Linked DNA regions of Homo sapiens: region 2 is linked to region 1. Evidence: fine-mapped expression QTL. A gene starts in region 1. The other region holds a variant in brackets. All regions are shown on one strand. Distances are between the middles of the regions.

Region 1 (5,236 bases):
AGTGGCTCGATCTCGGCTCACTGCAACCTCCACCTCCCAGGTTCAAGCGATTCTCCAGCCTCAGCCACCCAAGTACCTAGGACTACAGGTATGGGCCACCATGGCCAGCTAATTTTTGTATTTTTATTAGAGACAGGTTTTTACCATGTTGGCCAGGCTGGTCTCAAGCTCCTGACCTCAGGTGATCTGCTGTCTTGGCATCCCAAAGTGCTGGGATTACAGGTGTGAGCCACCGTGCCCGGCCATGGATTGGAGCATTTCTAAGGCTTGAGGTACTCATGTTACTAAATACAATGCAATATCTTCCTGATCCTTCCCTGCTTTGACCAAGTGCTGAGGAATGACCCCAGCACTGACAGATGTTGACCTGCACTGTTCCATGTGATCCCTTACACTTCTCAGAATCTGTGAGCTGACCAGAAGCCTGTGAGCTTTCTATGTGTATTTCACAGTAATGCCCATGCCAACGTCTATTGTTCCGTGTACCTTTTGCTACCCAGAGTTATGTGACCACTGGGGCCCCATCTGATGGTGGGCAATGTTTGGCACACTTATAGGCCATCCACTACCACTACCAGGGGCACGCATAGGTGCTGGAACTCCCTGGTGTGGGGTCATATATCACGGTGGAGTGATGACACGGTTGAGTAATGCAGACCATCAACATCGGGACCCATTTCTGGGTTCACTTTTGCCTCTTCCATTCAGGAGGTCAAAATCTGGGTTCATTCCTTTCCACACTCTCTCTCTCTCTAAGAAGTAGGGATATTAAACTGACCTTCAGGTACACTGTGTTGAGTGAAAAAGAGGTCATTTATGTAAAGTGTATGGTGGTGCTGAAGTTTTTCTTCCTTTTTATTAGAAGAATGACATGACTTGGGAGGCTGAGGTGAGAGGACCACCATAGGCCAGGAATTCAAGAAAACTGACACTTGCACTTGTGCTGGGCATGCGGGTCCACATTTTTGGGGGAAAACACACATTTACAAACACTACACATTAATTCACCCCTGGCTATCTCCCAACCCTCATGCACACAAACCCACATCATCTAAATGACACGGCTGTTTCCAGGGACTCTAGTGGATGATGACAGTTCTTCACTGAGCCATCTGTTTCTCACACTGCACTCCAGGTCCTCACTCCTATCAGGAACCTGAAGCCAGGCAGGCTCTCCAGACAGAAGCAGGGAAGAGAGTCCCCTGCGAACCATCACTTAGATTTGTCATCAGCAAAGGAGTGGTCTTAGAATACGTACGGTGTTAGACAGGGAATGATACACACTGGGGCCTGTCAGGGGGCAGGGGAAGGGAGAGAATATGGATAAACAGTTAATGCATGCAGGGCTTCATACCTAGGTGATGGGTTGACAGGTGCAGCAAACCACCATGGCACACTTTTACCTACGTAACAAACCTGTACATCCTGCACATGTACCTCGGAACTTAAAAAAAATTAAATTAGGAGCCGGGCGCGATGCCTCATGCCTGTAATCACAGCACTTTGGGAGGCCGAGGCGGGCAGATCACCAGGTCAGGAGATCGAGACCATTCTGGCTAACACAGTGAAATCCCGTCTCTACTAAAAATACAAAAAATTAGCCGGGCGTGGTAGTGGGCACCTGTAGTCCCTACTCAGGAGGCTGATGCTAGAGAATCGCTTGAACCCAGGAGGCAGAGGTTGCAGTGAGCTGAGATCCCGCCACTGCACTCCAGCCTGGGCAACAGAGCAAGACTCCATCTAAAATAAATAAATAAATAAATAAATAAATAATAAATAAAATTTACAAAAAATAAGCTACCTTAAGAGATGGAAGAAAAACAATCTGACCCTTAGCTGGTTCCTTCATTTAGGTACCAAACCGGCCAGATAGGTGAGGCTAGAGAATGGGATGGGGACTCCAAAATTGGGGTATTTGAATTTTCATTGAGAAAAGGGCTCTCCCTTTTCTAGATCAAAAAGTCTCAACGACAAAGACAGGAGGCAGAGTCAGCCTTTGTCCCCCATGCCCAGACCTGGGAAAGCTGGCTATGGACAGGAGGGAGCTGGAAGCTGAGGATGTCTCTGGGGATGAGGGTAAGGGAAGGGGGTGGGGGTGGCCAGAGGTGTGCCAGAGGGTAAACGGCACCCGTGGCTTTTTTACCTGTGGGCATCTTTTGGTTGCTGATGTGCTGCAGGTCTTGGCCCTCCGTGGCTCCCACATCCAGCTTGCCAGGCTCTACAGTAGTGGATTCTGATGTTGCAGCAGCCACAGTCTCATAAATATCAGTATCAGATTCATAACAGGGTGCGTCCTTCCCCCTGGGCCAGCCACAGTGGGAGTTGATACAACAGGTCAGTATATTCCCCATGGGGCCTCTCCATGCCTCTCCACTCCTGCCTCAGCCTTCAGCGAAATTGTAACTGTGCTGCCCTAGCAGCCACACTACTGAGGGTGGCCCTGCACTTTTAGAAGCAGCCTGACCCCAGGCAGATCTGGGTCCTCAGCCCTTATTCTGCCGCCACCTCCCAAACTAGCTGGTCTATGAGGTCAGGGACCTGCTGTCTTCTTTGAAAAATAAACGAACATGACAAGCACCCAAAGGTGCAAAAACTGCCATCAAAGAGCACAGTTGGAGCTCCTCCTCCCTCCACTGCGAGCTACTGACTGAGGGCTGCTGGCCCTGGCTGATGCTTATAACCCACAAAGCTTCCTATGTCACCTGGTTACCAGGAAACAGCCAGGTCAGGCTAGTGACTCACAATGTCCAGCCCCACAGCCCCCCCCAATGCCTCATAATGCCTGTCCCTGCTGCTGCCCACCTTGTGGCCCCCCTGCCCCTCTGTGGGGACTGCACTACTCAGGCTTTTATTCACCCTATGCTGCCTGAGCTTTCCAGTCCTGAGCTAAGTGCAGGGGGAGTTGTTATTGCGAGTCACCCTTGGCAAGAAACTCAATAGAAAACCCTGGTATGGCCGGGAGTGGTGGCTCACGCCTGTAATCCTAGCACTTTGGGAGGCTGAGCGGGGGGGGTGGATCACTTGAGGTCAGGAGTTCAAGACCAGCCTGGCCAACATGGTGAAAACTTGTCTCTACTAAAAATACAAAATATTAGCTCGGCCTGGTGGCGGGCACCTGCAATCCTAGCTACTCAGGAGGCTGAGGCAGGAGAATCGCTTGAATCCAGGAGGCGGAGGTTGCACAGTGAGCCAAGATCACACCATTGCACTCCAGCCTGGGTGACAAAGGTGCAACTGTCTTTAAAAAAAAAAAAAAAAAAGAAACAAAAGAAAGAAAACCCCAGTTACTAAAGTCAGTTCCACCAGCAGTTCTGTTTTTCTGAGTCTGACAGCTTTCATTTGCTCACCAAATGTAGTTATACACAAATTTTTTACTGCTTTTCTAATTAAATGCTTCTCTCCTGTCTTACAAGTGTTAGTTCTTGTCTGCAACTTGACCATAGCTACCCCCAGGGCCCTGGTCCCACTCTCAATAGAGAGTTATGGCTGTGTATCCTCAGTGAAACCCTGGGACACATCACACTTCCCTCCTCGTCTATAAAATAGGGACTGAACACATCCTTCCCAGTTCTGTAATGCTACGACCTACCAACTCCCTTTTCTCGCTCTGTTTCTTCTTTCCATGGCAGGGGTATTCAGATATTTCTTTTATTTACTTATTTATTTATTTTTTGAGATGGACTATTGCTCTGTCGACCAGGCTGGAGTGCAGTGGCACGATCTCGGCTCACTGTAACCTCCACCTCCCAGGTTCAAGCGATTCTCCAGCCTCAGCCTCCTGAGTAGCCTGGACTACAGGCACACGCCACCGCATCTGGCTAATTTTTGTATTTCTAGTAGAGACGAGGGTTTCACCATGTTGGTCAGGCTGGTCTTGAACTCATCTCAGGTGATCCACCCGCCTCGTCCTCCCAAAGTGCTGGGATTACAGGCATGAACCACCATGCCCAGCCTCAGGTATTTCTTTTACTAACAAATCATAAAACATTATTTTCTTATACAAAATTGAGAACCCCACAGTGGGGTACCATTGTCCTCATAGGACAAAGACAAATAGTCAATATCTGGCAAGCATTATGTGCCTGACAGTGTTCCAACTGTGGCATACTAATTTAACCCTCAGAAATAGTCCCATTTTACACATCTTACAGCGTAAATCTAGAGGGAAAAGTCAAGTAACTTCCCCAAGGTCCCACAACTGCTCAGTGAGTTCAGGCAGATGAGCAAACAAAGGCTTAGAGTTCAGTTGTCTGAGGCTACACTGCAAAACAGTGGATGAACCTGGAATACAAAGGCTCATTCACTGTCCAGCAGTAGAGTTGAAGTAGAGTTTAAGTTTTATTCTGGAAACATGAGAGTCACGGAACCACACAGAGGTGAGGAGTCTCTATCAGATGTGTTTGCAGTGAGGTCTCTCTGCACAATAGAGAAGGACTCATGGAACCAGTGGGACCAATTAAGAGACATGATGTTGGGAGGCCAAGGTGAGTGGATCATTTGAGGTCAGGAGTTCGAGACCAGCCTGGCCAACATGGTGAAACCCCATGTCTACTAAAAATACAAAAATTAGCCTGGCATGATGGCGGGTACCTGTAGTCCCATCTACCCAAGGGGCTGAGGCAGGAGAATCGCTTGAACCCAGGAGGTGGAGGTTGCAGTGAGCCAAGATCACACCACTGAACTCCAGCCTGGGCAACAGGGAGAGATTCTGTCTCAAAAAAAAAGAGAGAGAGACATTATGTTCATCTGGAAGAACAGATAAGGCCAAAGGAAGTAGAAATGACTGAAGTGGACAGAGAAGTTCTGTGATCATTTGGCAGAGAGAACAGAAAGTGCTAGAGGATTAGATGTGGAAGAACAGGGGAAGGAAAAGGAAAAACAGGCTGCTAAGGCTCTAGTTTGAAGGACTGGGTAAATAGCAGTGAATGTCTCCTACAAAGACAATGTAGGAAGAGGAATAGGTATGGGGAATAAGATAGTTTTCGGCTGGGTGCAATGACTCACGCCTGTAATCCCAGCACTTTGGAAGGCCGAGCTGGGTGGATTATGAGGTCAGGAGTTCGAGATCAGCCTGGCCAACATGGTGAAACCCCATTTCTACTAAAATTACAAAAATTAGCCGGGTGCGATGATGGGCACCTGTAATCCCAGCTACTCAGGAGACTGAGGCAGGAGAATTGCTTAAACCTGGGGGGCGGAGTTTGCAGTGAGCCGAGATTGTGCCACTGCACTCTAG
Region 2 (5,236 bases), 51 kb after region 1:
TCACAGCGGCAAACACATTTTTCTTTCTCACTTTTTTTTTTGCTGTTGAGATGGAGTCTCAATCGGATTATCCCCCAGGCTGAAGAGCAGTGGCGCAATCTTGGCCCACTGCAACCTCCGCCTCCTGAGTTCAAGCGATTCTCCTGCATCAGCCTCCAGAGTAGCTGGGACTAGAGGCACATGCCAGCACGCCTGGCTAATTTTTGTATTTTTAGTAGAGACAGGGTTTCACCATGTTGGCCAGGCTGGTCTCAAACTCCTGACCTCAGGTGATCCACCCGCCTTGGCCTCCCAAAGTGCTGTGATCACAGGCGTGAGCCACCATGCCCAGCAGGCAAACACATTTCTAGTTCATGCATACATATGCCAGGTGGGATGAACCTGCCCCGGGGCCCCTGATGGTGCTCATGGGTAGAGCAGGGTGATCCCCAGGTCCCACGATGGCATGGGACCTGATGCTGGCATCAGGTGGTCTGGCCTGTTGTTAGGCCCCCTGCTGGTGCAAGCACATGCCAGAAGTGGAAGGCAGGGCAGGTCTATACCCAGGTCCCTGGGTGAAGTACTTGGGTACTTGTGGGGTGGGGGTTCTCTGGGAGGGGTCAGCCTGTCCTTAGGCCCTGTGGGAGCCTGCATGGACACAGGTTGTGGTTGGTGGGCTGGGGTGATCCCCAGGCCCCTGAATGTCATCCTTGGGGACCAGGGGCAGGTGGGCTGGGTCTGTTGGCAGTCCTCCCTATGGTATGTGTCTGTGCCCATGGCAAGAGGTGGGCAGAGCAATTTCCAGGCTCCCAGGTGGCTTGCTTGGGTGGCAGTGGTGGTGACTGGTTGTGAGTGGGTTGAGTCTGCATTCAACAGTCAACTCAGAAACCCCAGACACCATTTTCCATGCCAACTGGCCTGTCCACCACTCAGAAAGGCCCTGGACACTGTGCCATGTGGCTGGCCCCGCATTGGGCCAGGCTTCCATGGGAGGCAGGAGGTCTGGGCCCTGCCCTGGGGAGGGAGAAGAATGGGACACAGGCAGTGGTCATTGAGCGGAAGAGACAGAATGAGCACAGGATGCTGTGAGGCGGTAAGTATAAGGAATCATGGAGCTGAAGGTGTTCATCTGACATATACCAGAAACTAACATAAGGTAGGAAAATACACAAAACCAACTAATCCAACAAAACTTGGGCAAAGAACTGATAGACATTTCTGAAAAGAAGGCAGGAAATGAACAGGTAAAAAAAAAAAGCTTGCCCACATCACTAATCATCACAAAAATTTAAATCAAATCACACTAAGACAGCGTCCCCATCCACATAAAATGAATGTTGCCAAAAGCAAAAACAGAATTTTTAAAACGCAATCACAAGTGTAAATTTACAGAGAGGGAAACTCTTAGACACTACTGGTGGGAATGTAAATGGGCGTACACACTATGAGCAATAGTTGGCAGTTCCTCCTCAAACTAAAAATACAATTACTATGTCATCTAGCAATCTCATCACTGGGAAATACAAAGTACATGGATGTATTATGCTCCCTGATTACAAATGACATAGAAGAGCTATAGTGGTCCAAACAATACGGTATTGACATTAACACAAAAATACAGAACAAGACACAACGAGGGAACCAAATACCAAACCCAAATTCATATATGATGGACACATTTTTAACAAATATACCCAGGGGATGGGAGACCCCGGGCTGCCTTCGGTTGGGGCTGCAGAAGTGTCCTGGGGGGACCTGCAGCCACCTCTCACCTGGGCTCTGGATGGTTTCTACTCCATGAGGATTTCCAGAGTTTCCCCTCAGCCACCCTCAGAGTCAGGGGGGCTTCCATGGGGCTGCAACCATCTGTCCCAGTCTTTCCTGTCTCTATGACACACCGTGTGACCTGTGTACACTGCGAGATGTAGGTGCGTGCATTGAAACCGTACAGTTAAGATGACCTACAACTGATGCTACTCTAAGTCTTCCAGAGATTTTTCAGATATCCCCAGAGTAAACCAAACTAGTGATATCCCATGGTTTTGCAAACCAGAACCAACAACTGCACAGAAACAGCTCCTTATGCGCCATCAGACACTCTCCAGACCTGCCCCTCACTCACAAATGTAACAAAGCAGCATGAACCCAGGCAGTCTTCACTCCTCAGGGCCACATAACAACCTCTATCGGTCAGGAAGCCTTTGATCTGGGCCAGGCTGC[C/T]GACCCACAGGGGTTAATTGTGCCTCTCATGCTGAGTGTTGTTTCTCCTCACTGGACTAACCCCCACCCTTCCACCAAGAAGGGCCCCCAGGGAAACTGCTGTTTGACATCCAGGAGCCCATGTGGAATGTTCCAGCAACCTGGATGGCCTTGGCCACCTCTAATACCAGCCTTTCCCTCTGTGGGGCTCCCTTCCTGGCTCTTGCTCATGCAAGTCAATCTAAAGTGGCTGAGATGTCCTGCTCCCTCACCCTCCTGGGTCACCCTGATGGCATAGGCAGGTGTCTGCATTCAAGAACGAGTTACCCACAGGCCAACTTCCCTGGTGTGGGGGACAATGCCTGGGGCCTCCAAACAGCCAGCCCCAGGTAAACAATCCAGCTCTGACACAGCTCAAAGACTGTGTGGCGTACCTGGAGAGACTCTCTGGTCCTGTGCCCTCTTCTGGCTCACTGGATTCTTAGGATTATTGAGAGACTGGGCTTAAAGCTCTCAGCCTAGGGCCCACAATGCCACAGGGAATCAAATCAGCATGACCAGGGATCGAAGACCTCTCCTTGGCTGGGAATGGGGAATCAGGGTTGCAGAGACAAGGGGCACAGAGAGATGCCTGTGCCATCAGAGAAGGGACTGGGGATCTGGTCCACTCTGGGCTCCTCAACCTGAGCGTGAGGCCTTGCTGTGCCATGAGCTCACCTGCCCCTTGGGAGTCCACTGTGACTGCAGTCCAGTGGGGTCAATGTCCACACTGATGCCGGAAAGAAGTCCTGGGAGATGCGGAGGGCATCCTGTAGCGGCAGGCAGTCTGGGTGGTCCACGGGTGTGAGCTTCAGCAGGTCCTGGGAAGGGATGAGGTGGTGAATTGGGGGCCGTGTTTTTGGGGTTCGATGAGAAGCTCCTGGGGGAATGCTCAGTCCTCACCAAAAGAATTCAAAGGGCAGGTACTCAGGGACCCACACTCGTGCCTGCAAAATCTGAACTGAAAATTAGAATCGGAGCAGCAGGGTTGATTCTAAAAGGGGCTGGGCTCGCTTTTCTCCCTGCTGCAGTCATTACTCGTTTCCCCTGGCAGAGGCAGCCGGGTGGAGGCTCATCTCTTCAAGCAGCTGGGAGAGACACCCCACTACCCACCCTGCAGCTGCTCCAAGGATACTGGAGACAAAAAGACAGGGGCTGGGGAAGCAAGATGTTCCTGCCTCGACCAAGACAGCAATTGGCCAAATGCCCTGACCCTGCTGGCATGGTTACCGCAGGCCAGGCAGGCATATTCAGGGCTCAGGATCCCTCTGCCTGACTTTTCAAATGGGCTGTTCTCAGTGACTCTGGCCCCCTCCCACCCTGGGCTCACTCTTGAGAAACTCCTAAGCCTTCTCTGGCCCTTCAGGGGCCTTAACGCTTATGTGTAGGACCAGGATGCTCTGAGTGACCTACTTGGTCAATGGGCTGCTACAGCAGAGCTGTTGGGGAAGGCAGAGAGAAAAAGGACAATGACAGACAAAGAACCACTCAACACCTCAGAGACCAGCTTTGTCCCCCACCCAACCGCCTTGCTCCCCACATGAACACCTGCTTGCAGGAAGCCAAAGTGGGTCCACAGCAGCCCACCTCTGTTCTCACTCCCAGGGCAGACAAAGCAGCAAGAACAGGTGACACACAGCCCCGGTGACCCTGTCCCCTCCCTACCCGTGCCTACTCTCCCATCAAACCTGGCTTCGAGGGCTGCCCGCCAGTCCTGTCCAGGCCTTATCTGGCTCAGAGCAGATGATCCCCTGCACCTCCCACCCTGAATCACACAGCTACACCCAGCACATGCTACAGAGGCCCAGCACACTCTGGATCACATCCAGAAACTCCACAATAGGGGAGGAGACATGCTGTTTCCCAGGAAGGGCAGCTCCCCAGACTTGGTCATTCTCAGACTCCTCCAGTCAAAGGCCGGGCACAGCCAGCTGGGATCGCCATGCTTCACTCTGACCCACACGACTGGCCTTGCCTCCTCTATGGGAAGAGACCCCTCAGCACAACCTCAAACCGAGACATAACAGGACAGGACAGGCTGGATGCTAGAGAGGCCAGCCAGATCTCCACACAAAGGCTCTGCTCTTAAGCAGGAGGTAGCCTGAGGGTCAAAGGTTTCCTGAAGCAACTCAGGTGAGACCTCACATACAAGAGCCCCAAAGAGGCTGCAAAAGCACCAGCTCAGCCAGCCAAGAACCCAGGTGTCACACCCTTCTCAGACCACTGAGGATCGCTGGGATTCAGCAGGAAAAGGTGGACATGACAGCTGATGGACCAATACTTCCCAACACCCTTCCAGCAAGCAGCTGTGCCCCGCCCCTCCCCACATGAGTCACTCAACTTCAGTCCTGCACATGGATGCCTTTGACCATGGGGTCATGGCTTTGGTCTCCTGCCATAGGGGCAGTGAGAGGAACAATGGTGGTCTGGGAAGGAGGATCCTAGACTGGGTGTCCCACAAGACCAGGCTGTGACAGATCCCAGAGCCAATACTCATGCGCCAGCCAGTCCCCAAACCCAACAGCTACCCAAAGCCCAGGATATAAATAGCCTGTGCACTGCTAAGCAGATACTTCAGGGAATGATCTGCTGGCTGTGAAGAAGATGCGGCCTCAGTAGGGTTCCACGAGCCTTCTGCCAGCAAAATCTTCTTTGCTTGGATGCCCATTAGAAACACTAAGGGAGCTCTTCAAAGGAACAGGCCAGACATGGTGGCTCACATCTGTCAACTCAGCATTGTGGGAGGCTGAGGCAGGAGGACAGCTTGAGGCTAGGACTTTTAAGACCAGCCTGGGTGGAACAGTGAGACCCCACCTCTACAAAAAACACAAAAATTAGCATGGCATGGTGGTGCATGCCCATAGTCCCAGCTACTTGAGAGGCAGAGAAGGGAGGATTCCTTGAGCCTGGGAGATCAAGGGTGCAGTGCCCATGATCATGCCACTGCACTATGGCCTGGGCAACACTGCAAAGTCCCGCTTTCAAAAAAGAAACAAACAAAACAAAACAAAACCAAAGA

Evidence for each region. PIP is the estimated chance that this variant, and not a neighbour inherited with it, causes the effect.
Region 2: its variant is the best candidate, but not a certain one, in a credible set for the expression of DRICH1 in whole blood (TOPMed, PIP 0.60).

Annotation. Positions count from the first base shown.
Region 1 is chr22:23,629,673-23,634,908 of GRCh38, forward strand. DRICH1 (aspartate rich 1) reads right to left here and starts at 2,649. Exons shown (of 12, transcript NM_016449.4): 1 at 2,144-2,649. The coding sequence starts at 2,351. It overlaps LOC124905089 (a long non-coding RNA gene), which reads right to left. Exons shown (of 3, transcript XR_007068021.1): 3 at 3,204-3,238. RefSeq lists a silencer at 3,688-3,825.
Region 2 is chr22:23,680,830-23,686,065 of GRCh38, forward strand. It overlaps the pseudogene GUSBP11. Among named protein-coding and RNA genes, the nearest start is that of RGL4, 7.6 kb to the right of the region's middle. RefSeq lists a silencer at 4,333-4,627. The variant C/T (reference allele first, on the strand shown) is at 2,200.